Linked DNA regions of Homo sapiens. Each later gene encodes a partner of the first gene's protein in a complex. Each region holds a gene or a part of one and is shown in the gene's direction. Other genes may lie near its edges. The genes, in order: LSM4, LSM5 and PRPF6.

Evidence for each region.
Region 2: LSM4 (region 1) and LSM5 share a complex: the UniProt entries of both Homo sapiens proteins name them as parts of the precatalytic spliceosome.
Region 3: LSM4 (region 1) and PRPF6 share a complex: the UniProt entries of both Homo sapiens proteins name them as parts of the U4/U6-U5 tri-snRNP complex.

What each region holds. Positions count from the first base shown.
Region 1 is NC_000019.10:18,321,305-18,325,052, reverse strand, and holds the start of LSM4 (U6 snRNA-associated Sm-like protein LSm4), read left to right. Parts: upstream 1-1,976; 5' UTR 1,977-2,032; coding exon 2,033-2,035; intron 2,036-3,055; exon of another isoform or gene 3,056-3,319; intron 3,320-3,748. UniProt on the Homo sapiens protein: Plays a role in pre-mRNA splicing as component of the U4/U6-U5 tri-snRNP complex that is involved in spliceosome assembly, and as component of the precatalytic spliceosome (spliceosome B complex).
Region 2 is NC_000007.14:32,488,616-32,492,363, reverse strand, and holds the start of LSM5 (U6 snRNA-associated Sm-like protein LSm5), read left to right. Parts: upstream 1-1,983; 5' UTR 1,984-1,998; coding exon 1,999-2,044; exon of another isoform or gene 2,045-2,339; intron 2,340-3,019; coding exon 3,020-3,115; intron 3,116-3,711; coding exon 3,712-3,739; intron 3,740-3,748. UniProt on the Homo sapiens protein: Plays a role in pre-mRNA splicing as component of the U4/U6-U5 tri-snRNP complex that is involved in spliceosome assembly, and as component of the precatalytic spliceosome (spliceosome B complex).
Region 3 is NC_000020.11:63,998,028-64,001,775, forward strand, and holds part of PRPF6 (pre-mRNA-processing factor 6), read left to right. Parts: intron 1-1,017; coding exon 1,018-1,112; intron 1,113-1,575; coding exon 1,576-1,732; intron 1,733-3,049; coding exon 3,050-3,212; intron 3,213-3,748. UniProt on the Homo sapiens protein: Involved in pre-mRNA splicing as component of the U4/U6-U5 tri-snRNP complex, one of the building blocks of the spliceosome.

The sequences.
Region 1 (3,748 bases):
CACCATATTGGCCAGGCTGGTCTCAAACTCCTGACCTCAGGTGATCTGCCCACCGCGGCCTCCCAAAGTGCTGCAATTACAGGCATGAGCCACTGAGCCTGGCCTTTATGTTTCTTATTAAAAATATAAGCAAATTTGGTTCACGTGCTTGGTGTGGTTAAAAAAAAAAAATATATATATATATATATATACACACACACATGCAAATATATATACACATACACATGCATGTATTTCTCTTTTTGCACACAAAAGAGGACATATTGTAAAAACTGTTCTCTACCTTGGTTTTTTTCACTTAAGATATCCAGACACCATTCAATGTCAGTATATGAAGATTGTCTTCATTCCTTTTTATAGCTGTATTACTCTATTATTTGGTCGCATTGGGTTTTTTTCAGTCTTTTGATATTATGAATAATGTCAATAAATAGCATCAGTCATTTAAAAACGAGGCTGGGCGTGGTGACTCATGCCTGTAATCCCAGCACTTTGGGAGGCCAAGGTGGAAGGATCACCTGAGGTCAGGAGTTCGAGGCCACCTCCTGGCCAACATGGCAAAACCCCGTCTCTGCTAAAAATACAAAAATTAGCTGGGCATTGTGGCATGTGCCTGTAATCCTAGCCACTCGGGTGGCTGAGGCAGAAGAATCCCTTGAACCCAGGAGGGAGGGGTTGCAGTGAGCTGAGATCGCACCACTGCACTGCAGCCTGGGTGATAGAATGAGACTCCATCTCAAAAAAAAAAGAACAGGGTCTTCGCAGATGTAATTAAGGATCTTGAGATGACATTATCCTGAAATTTATGGTGGACTTAATAAGAGAAAGGAGTGTCCTTTACAAGAAAAAGGAGCGGCCGGGCTCGGTGGCTCACGCCTGTAATCCCAGCACTTTGGGAGGCAGAGGAGGGAGGATTGCTTGACCCCAGGAGTTCGAGACCAGCCTGGACAACATAGGGAGACCCTGTCTCTACTACAAAAAAAAAAAAGAAAAAAAAAAGGAGAGATACATTTGAGACTCAGAGACACACAGAGAAGGCCAAGTGACGACAAAGGCAGAACGCGGAAGGCTGCATCTACAAGCCAAGAACTCCAAGGATTCCCAGCAGCCACCAGAACCCAGGAGAGAGGCATAGGACACACAGATTGTCCTCAGAGCCTCCAGAGGGAGCCAACTGTGCTGACAACCTCACTTCATTATTCTGATCTCTTGAATTGTGAGAAAATCACGTTCTGTTGTTTTAAACCTCGCAGTGTGTGGGCATTTGTTACAGCAGGCCCCAGAAAACTAATAGCATTCGCCTATTTACTTTGTTTACTGTCTGTCTCCCTGAGGGCCACGAATTTTGTGTTTTGTTCATTCTGTGAGCAGAAACAGGCACAGAGTAGGTAATAAGTACTTAATATGTGCCAGACGCTGTTTTAAGTGCTTTTACATGGTTTCATTCATTTCATCCTTACAGTAAGCAACGTTTTGGAGCAGACACTACTATTTACAGGGAGCAAACTGAGGCCCCGAGGGTCGTGGTCAGGATTCCAACCTATTAAATGATGTTCCCTGGATAATTACAGAATCAGAAAACTAGGAGTCGGAAGGGCAACATCAGGCACGGCCCAATCACCACGAAGCCTCGATTTCTCTCTCTCTACTGCAAACGAAAGGCATTAACTGGCTTTGCCCACAGCGTGGAGCCCAGGAGACCGACGAAGGTTTCACCTGCGCACGCATTTCCTCACAATGCACCCCGCGCCGGCGCGCGTTGCTCCGCCTCCTTTTGCATTACAAGCCGCGGCACTTTACGGCTCTCGTCCTCGTTCCTCCGGCGGGAACACGGCCCGCCCCGCCCTTTCGCCCAGCGGGCCCCGCCCTACTCCGCGTGGATTGGTTGACCGCCCTTCGAGCCCGGTGCTGACTGGCTTGCGTCTCTGCCACTTTCTTTCAGCTTAGTGGCGCGCGGCGCGGCGACGACCGCCGGGAGCGTGTGCAGCGGCGGCGGCGGAAGTGGCCGGCGAGCCCGGTCCCCGCCGGCACCATGGTGAGGGCAGGGCAACTGCGGGGTCTCACCGGGAGGCGGGAACAGCAGTCGTTGGGATCCCTGCGGGCGGGCGCTGTGGGCTTGGTTGGCGCGGGGCGAACGTAAGGTCCGAGCCTCGAGTCCCGCCCCCCGGCACGAGGCTGGGAAACTGAGGCCGGAGACTGCAGGTGGCTCTATCACGTTCGTGTCTGGGATTTAGGGTTGCACGGACTTGTATCCACAGTACAGTGGCCTCGCCTTAGTTAGTTTTCCCAGTTTGCAGGTGGGGAAACTGAAGTAAAAAAAAAAAAGGTGGGGATCCGCCAAATGCAGCAGAGAGTTTTTGGGCAGGGAAGGGGTCCCTTACGCTTCGGGCCCAGTCTGACCTCCCTGATTGAAAACTAGAGTGCTGGGAAGTAGGGGGCCAGTCTGAGTTGTGAAACTTAGTTTTAGGAATTTCAGAGCTTGCAAGATGCTAGCAGCACAGCCTCCTAGGCCTCTTGGTTTCTGGCTGAAAAGCAGGCCTGGTGCTGGGGTGTGGTGTTTCTCCTTGGGTCACATAGCATGTCATTCCAGCGGAAGGGGGCGTTTTGAGCTAGGGGTGGACAAAGTACATCCTCCCAATACAAAGAAGGAAAAATTGCGGCCCAGGTCTCTGCAGGGCCCATTGTTTATGATTCTGGAAGTTCTGGATCTGGGCTAGAAAGTGCCCGTGTCCCCCACTGTGCAGATCGGAAAAGGAATTCAGAGCTGGGAGTTTCCTGGCCCATCAGCTTCTGGTCCTTCTTTTTTCAATGAGAGAAACCAAGGCCCTTGTTGGGGATGTGACTTCCAGACTCTGTGAGACAGTGGGAGATTCAGTAACCAGGAGGGTCCCCCAGGGGTGGCTGCATCAGAACTGTGGATTAGTGAGAACTCTCCCTAAATCCGGCTGGTCAGTGTGTAACCACCCAATGGGTTCACCTTGCCTGTCTTCCTAGACAGATTTATCAAGACAGGGGAATTGCAGTGGAGAAAGAGTATTTCACACAGAGCCAGCTATGCAGGAGACCAGAGTTTTATTATTGCTCAAATCAGTCTCCGCTGAGCATTAGGGGATCCGAGTTTTGAAAGATAATTTGGCGGGTAGGGGCTCAGGAAGTGGGGAGTGCTGATTGGTTGGAGCTTCCTGAGGTCGATGGAGTCATCGACGGGAGTGTTGAAGTGAGGTTTTCTTGCTGTCTTCTGTTCCTGGGTGGGATCGCAGGACTGGTTGAGCCAGATTACTGGTCTGGGTAGTGTCAGCTGATCCGTCAAGTACGGGGTCTGCAAAATATCTCAAGCACTGATCTTAGATTTTATAATAGTGATGTTATCCCAAGGAGCAATTTGGGGAGTTTCAGACTCTTGCAGCCAGAGGCTGAAGTTACCTAAATGGTAATTTCTAATCTTGTAGCTTATTTGTTAGTCCTACAAAGGCAGACTGGTCCCCAGGCAAGAAGAGGGTCTTTTCGGGAAAGGGCTATTACCAATTTTGTTCCAGAGTCAAACTATAAACTAAATCCCTTCCCAAGGTTAGTTTGGCCTATACCTAGGAATAAGCAAAGATGGCGTAAAGGTTAGAAGCACAATGGAGTCGGTTAGGTCTGATCTCTTTTCACTGTCATAATTTCCCGCTACAATTTTTGCAAAGGCGATTTCAAGTGCAAGGATTCAGAGAGCCTGTCCCTCTCTGCGGTGTACTTAGAGGGCAGA
Region 2 (3,748 bases), on another chromosome or scaffold:
CTTAGTAGAGATGGGGTTTCACCATGTTGGCCAGGATGGTCTTCATGTCTTGACCTCGTGATCCGCCCACCTCGGCCCCCAAAGTGTTGGGATTATAGGCGTGAGCCACTGTGCCCAGCCTATTTTTCTAATTTTTAAAAACTCTATCAAATAACAACAATGTTTTGAATTCTCCCATACTGTCAGTATGGTATGGGGAAAATAAAATAGGAATAGAAAAGGAAAACCAGGAAAAGAGGTGGTTTTCAACCAAATGAGGATTGGACAAAAAGAAAAAAAGAGAAAGAGAAAGAAAGAAGCGTCACAAACAAATCTGGCATTACTTCGTATTTAAAATCTTATGAAGAGTAAGGAGAATGTTGATGGGTGTGAATGAAATAGTGAGAATCAATTTAAAGAATATTCATTAGGCGCCCTACAGTGTGCCTGAAAATGTAGTGTGCACAGTGTATAAAATAAGAAATTGCTTCCTTAAAGTGGCTTATGTCTGGTTATAAAAATAAGATGAATGCAAAACCAGCTAGCAATGCTAGCTTTATGTAGCTTCACTCTGAGCCAGACATCATGTATTAGAAAACAAGGATAAGTAATAACAGCTCATGTTTAAAAGGGCTATGTGCCAGGTCCTATGCTGACCACTTTTCATAGATTATCTCAATTAATCTTCACATTAATCTTATGAGTAGATACTGTTGTCCCCATTTTTTCCAATGGGTATATTGAGACTTAAAAAGTTAAAATAACTTGCCCATTGTCAAATAACTGACCATGGAATTTGAACCAAAGTCATTTAATTCAAAATGAAGAAATTTAATCACGTAAACTACTGCTTCCCATAATTCTCAGCCTTGAGGAACTCAGTCTATGAAGGAATGATGGGTGCTTAATGACCATTTGTTGTATGAATGAATGACGTTCTTTGTGGCCGCTCATGTTTATTGTTTAGCTTTTTTTTTTTTTTTTTTTGAGATGGAGTTTCGCTCTTGTTGTTCAGGCTGGAGTGCAGTTGCATGATCTAGGCTCACTGCAACCGCTGCCTCTCGGGTTCAAGCAGTTCTCCTGCCTCTGCCTCCCGAGTAGCTGGGACTACAGGCGCACGCCACCACGCCCAGCTAATTTTTGTATTTTTAGTAGAGACGGGGTTTCACCCATGTTGGCCAGGCTGGTCTCGAACTCCTGACCTCAGGTGATCCGCCCGCCTCGGCCTTCCAAAGTGCTGGGATTACAGTCGTTACCACTGCGCCTGACCTAGACTGTTCAGGTTTAAGTTCCTAGGATACAAATATAAAACAGACTAGGGCCGATACTTTGCTGTTTTCAACACAGAAGTGGAAAGCATGATTTTACACTTCTGGAATAATTTAGAGTGACATCTGGTGGTTGCCTGTGAGACAAGAATTGTTGAAGAAACTGAATTTAAAAGCCTATAATAAATAAGACTACCAGACATAAAAAGATAAGAACGATGAATTAAAGTAGTAAAAAGTTTAAAAAACATATCTTAAATCCTCACTAAAGAAAAATTTTAAAAAATGCTAGTTGCAGATTTTCAATCCACTGGACTTTAAAAAGAAACAATAGATTCCTTAATGAGTAGTTGTAACGAAAATTGTAACAGTTAATTGATGGCAGGAAATACGAATTGATTTATACTGGTTTGAAGATTCTGGCTTGAGAGGAAATGCAACTTTACGGGGGAAGAAGACTCAAACGTTACAGGAACAATTTATTCACAAGGCAAAATATCTTCAACGTCTCTCCAAAACTTCAAGGGCATTATGGGTATCTGCCGAGATGGTAAAATGTCCAGTGGGCAGGAAATATTTCACCGGATCTCACTTGCCGGGGAAAAAAGCCAGTGAACGCGACCCACGCAGCTGACTAGATCGTGCGCTCGGCCTCAGATTGGTCGAGCCTGTTTGGGCTGCGGAAAAAGCGGAAGCGCGCTTTTCAAAGTCGTCCCACCATCAATGAAGGCAGGCCACTTCCGGCGTAGCCATGGCGGCTAACGCTACTACCAACCCGTCGCAGCTGCTGCCCTTAGGTAATCGCCGTCCTTTGGGGAGCAGGAACAGGGAGCTGACATTCAGGATTGGGGGCCGAGGGGCTGTTCCGAGGCAGGCCCTGGCCGAGTGTGGGGAAATGTATAAGACCAAATGCGGTTCGACTCTGAGCTCCAAGTCTTCGCGACAGCAGGCCGCACCTGCTCTTTAACGTGGTCGGGCTCCTCCAGGCAAGGACTTTGACTTCTCAAACCAGACCTTCACTGGAAAAGGTCCACATTTAGTGAACGCGTCGTCGGCCTACTTTGTTGTGAGCCCGCCTCTGCAGTGTTATAGGTAGTAGGCCTACTTCTCAGCCTGGCGTTTACGATCCCCAGATTAGATAGACCATGTTATGTATGTGGTTGGTTAGTGACACTAACACCCTGGTCCGGAATGAGCCTTAAATGAGGAATCTGGAAACCAGCTCTGTTTGTTATTTATTCATTCAATAAGTAGTAACTGAGTATCTATACACTAGATACCGTGCCTGGGCATTTTTCAATGATAAACCATAGCCATTGCCTTCAAATAGCACACAAGCCAGTGGAGGAGAGAACACTGGACAAGTAGACATCATGCCACATAATGCTAGGCTAGCTAAAGAGATGTTCAAGCTACCGTCAGAGCACAGAGGATAGACAGAGTTGGGAAAGGGAAGCAGTGACCGGAGAGTTTCCGGTGAATATAATTATACCTATCTCCTCTTATATTTTTGTAGTTGGTGAAGAGTGATTGAACTAGTGGTCGTGGCCGTGATTGAAAAGTTTTCATTCCTTCATGCCACAGACTCTTTTGGAAGGCTCATTATGTGCCAGATGCTGTGCTTGAACTGAGATTTGTATTATAAGACCTAAAGTTATTGAATGAATGTTTTTCCTGGTTTTTCTTTCACTATATGCAAGTAAGAGTGCCAGTAGGCACTCAAATATTTGTTGAAATAATGAATGGTAAAATAATATTTTTTCCCTCCTCAGAGCTTGTGGACAAATGTATAGGATCAAGAATTCACATCGTGATGAAGAGTGATAAGGAAATTGTTGGTACTCTTCTAGGATTTGATGACTTTGTCAGTATCCTTTTAAAAGGTGGTGGTGGTATAGGTTTTTCTTAAGTAATAACATAAGAACTATAGACAATCAGTATATTTGTGATTATTATAATAAAAATCAGTTCATTCTCAGGGAACTTATGATAATGTTTTAAGAGGTATGTATTGAAAGACGGTAAAGTTCCTATCAACAACAAGCATTTTGAATTTGAGCCATTGTATTAAACATTGTAATTAAAACTGAACAGGCGAGCCCAGTGGCTCACGCCTATAATCCCAGCGCTTTGGGAGGGCGAGGTGGGTGGATCGCTTGAGCCCAGGAGTTTGAGACCAGCCTGGGCAAGATGATGAAACCCTGTCTCCACAAAAATTACAAAAATTAGCTGGGCATGGTGATGTACACCTGTGGGTCCAGCTAATCTCCGGGGCTAAGGCAGGAGGATCCTTTAAGCCTAAAAGGTGGAGGCTGCAGTGAGGTGTGATTGTACCACTGCACTTAAGCCTGGATGACAGAGCGAGACTTTGTCTCAAAACAAAAACAAAAACAAAAAACAAAAGCTGAACAAAGGCAGAAGCTAGAGTAAATTCTGTATTTATTTTCTTAACACCAAATTTCAGATATGGTACTGGAAGATGTCACTGAGTTGTGAGTAGT
Region 3 (3,748 bases), on another chromosome or scaffold:
CTGTGAATACGGGTGTACAGATATTTGTCAGAGACCCTGCTTTCTATTCTTTCTTTTTTAATAAAAATTTTATTTATTTTTTTTTGAGACGGGGTCTTGCTCTGTCACCCAGGCTGGAGGGCAGTGGCGTGATCTCGGCTCACTGCAGCCTCTGCTTCCCAGGTTCATGTGATTCTCCTGCCTCAGCCTCCTGAGTAGCTGGGACTACAGGCATGTGCCACCACGCCTGGCTAATTTTTGTATTTTTAGTAGACACGGGGTTTCACCATCCTGGCCAGGCTGGTCTCGAACTCCTGATCTTGTGATCCACCCACCTTGGCCTCCCAAAGTGCTGGGTTTACAGGCGTGAGCCACCACGCCTGGTCAAAAATTACACTTTTTTTTGTAGAGACAGAATCTTGGGAGGCTGAGGCAGGAGGATTCCTTGAGCCCAGGAGCTGGAGGCTGCACTGAGCTATGATTGCCACTGCACTCCTGCTTGGGTGACAGAGTGAGACCCTGTCTCAAAAAAATAAATAAAAATATAGATCTTGGACAGACGCGGTGGCTCACGCCTGTAATCCCAGCACTTTGGGAGGCCGAGGCGGGCGGATCACGAGGTCAGGAGATCGAGACCATCCTGGCTAACACGGTGAAACCCCGTCTCTACTAAAAATACAAAAAAATTAGCCAGGTGTGGTGGCGGGCGCCTGTAGTCCCAGCCACTCGGGAGGCTGAGGCAGGAGGATGGCGTGAACCTGGGAGGTGGAGCTTGCAGTGAGCCGAGATTGCACAACTGCACTCCAGCCTGGGCGACAGAGCGAGACTCCATCTCAAAAAAAAAAAAAAAATAGATCTTTTTCCATACAGAAGAAATTTGTTATTATCACAAGGTGTTGTCTGAGTGAAATGAAGGCTGTTTTCCTTCTCCTTCTGACTGCTCTCTCAGGGTTGTGGGAGGGGCACCAGGGACCCTCTGAGAACTTTGTTTTGCACCTGGTCATGTCCAGCTGACTCTTAGCTTGGCCTGTCTCACAGGTGTCTGACTCCGTGAGTGGACAGACCGTCGTTGACCCCAAAGGCTACCTGACGGATTTAAATTCCATGATCCCGACACACGGAGGAGACATCAAGTGAGTGCTTTGCAGAATCGCTGGGCTGGGATGGAGACTCTAGTTGCCTAGGGTATTTTGGATTTTATATGGACAGTATGCTGTCAAAATGGGACATGGCGGTTCTAAGAAATGTAAAGTGGAGTAGTTTGTTTTTTCCATTTGAAATGTATCTGTATCCATTCATTGCGTACACTCAATGTGTTACATATGATACTGCAAAGTCCCTGCCTGTGCTGGGCAGGAAAGCAGCTGGCTGTGTCCCACATGTCCCATCTGGACCTTCGGTTCTCAGCGTTTGTCTGCGGGGAGGCTACAGAGGCTTGGAATAGTGCGCACTGAGGTTTTGAGTTGGTTTTTGTAACTCAGGACATCAGGACTGATAGTTCTTACATTGTGACTGTGAAGTGGGTGCCCTCATCCCAGGTCTCGGGTGCACCCCTGACAGCATGGCCTGATGCCGTGTGCACTCTCCCTCTCATAGTGATATCAAGAAGGCGCGACTGCTCCTCAAGTCTGTTCGGGAGACGAACCCTCATCACCCGCCAGCCTGGATTGCATCAGCCCGCCTGGAAGAAGTCACTGGGAAGCTACAAGTAGCTCGGAACCTTATCATGAAGGGGACGGAGATGTGCCCCAAGGTGAGGTATTTCCTGGGAGGCGTTTCCTGGGAGGCTGCGTGATTGTGGCCCCTACGGGAGTAAACTTGTTAGAGCAAATCTCTTTGTCTTTTGGTATTGAAACTACAGACAATAGGGCAGGCTGGGGGAGGATGTGAAAAGCAGCCAAGGGCTTTTTCCTGCTTGTTTTCATGTGGAGTGAAGGCTAATCCACCACTTTTTTTTTTTTTGGAGACGGAGTCTCGCTCTGTCACCCAGGCTGGAGTGCAGTGGCACGATCTCGGCTCACCGCAAGCTCCACCTGCCAGGTTCACACCATTGTCCTGTCTCAGCCTCCAGAGTAGCTGGCACTATAGGCGCCCGCCACCATGCCTGAATCCACCACGCCTGAATCCACCACTGGTTTGACGGCAGGCTAAGCTTCATTATAAAGAGCTCAGTTGGTCAGCTCTTCACCCGCCTAATGGTGGCCAGTCACGGTGGCTCACGCCTGTAATCCCAGCACTTTGGGAGGCTGAGGCGGGTGGATCACTTGAGGTCAGGAGTTAGAAACCAGCCTGGCCAACATGGCGAAACCCCGTCTCTACTAAAAATATGAAAGTTAGCCAGGCGTCGTGACAGGTGCCCATAATCCCAGCTATTCGGTAGGTGGAGGTTGCAGTGAGCTGAGATTGCACCATGCTGCTCCAGCCTGGGCGACAGAGCGAGATTCCGTCTCAAAAAAAAAAAAAAAAACAACAAAAAAGAACGACCCGAGCAGATGTGCAGTCTCTGCTTTGTCCATGGAGTTGTCCTGAAGGAAATCATGCTCTTTTCACAAAGTGGTGTTTCATTTTTTTTTTTTCTTTTTTTTTGAGTCTCGCTCTGTTGCCCAGGCTGAAGTACAGTGGCGTGATCTCAGCTCACTGCAACCTCTGCCTCCCGGGTTCAAGCAATTCTCCTGCCTCAGCCTCCTGAGTACCTGGGATTATAGGCACCTGCCACCACACCCGGCTAATTTTTGTAGTTTTAGTAGAGACAGGGTTTTGCCATGTTGGCCAGGCTGGTCTCAAACTCCTGACCTCATGATCCACCTGCCTCGGCCTCCCAAAGGGCTGGGATTACAGGCGTGAGCCACCGCGCCCGGCCATTAGGTGTTCTTCAGTCAGACATATGGTAGCCATGTTCCCAAGTGTGGTTATAAGGGGGCGACTCCTGGTGCAGGTGTGTTAGAGGCTGAGCTAATTGGCTTTCGTAAATTCTGGGGCCCGAGGATCTGCTCTGGAGATCTGTGCCTGCTGCCCTGTTGCGGCTTCCAGCCTGCACTGAGCCTTATTGGTCTTATCTCTTGCCTCACAGAGTGAAGATGTCTGGCTGGAAGCAGCCAGGTTGCAGCCTGGGGACACAGCCAAGGCCGTGGTAGCCCAAGCTGTCCGTCATCTCCCACAGTCTGTCAGGATTTACATCAGAGCCGCAGAGCTGGAAACGGACATTCGTGCAAAGAAGCGGGTTCTTCGGAAAGGTGAGCCTCCCTCGGAGGTGCTGCTTTCTCCCTCCTTGGGGCCCCTCCTCTCAGCAGCTTTCCTGCTCCTGGCTCAGGCTTTTGGTGAGAGTGGATAAGGAACCAGGGACATTTTTCAGGCCTTTTCTCAGGCTGGGTTGCCTCTGCCCTTGGACCCCCATGGGGGAGGGATACTGTGGTGGGCAAGTTCCCATCCTGGAAGGGATGCTTGGGTTGAGCCCTCACTCCTGCCTTTTTCCAGTGTGTGATCTTGGATGCTTGGGCGGTCACTCTGGTCCAGGCTTCCCTCATCTGCAGGGTGAGAACAACGGTAGCTCAAAGCCTGTGTCCTGGGGCTCTGGAGATGGTCTGTGTGAAGAGCTGAGCCGGCACCTGGCACGTGCAGACCCGTTGTGGGTGTTACTCATTTTCTCTCCTGAGAAGGCACCAGAGCCACACGTTGATTGAACTCTTTCCTGCTGCTGACGAGGCTGTGCCTTCTGCTCCCGCGATGCAGCGTGTGCCGTCAGCTCAGGTCAGATAACGACAGACGGTGT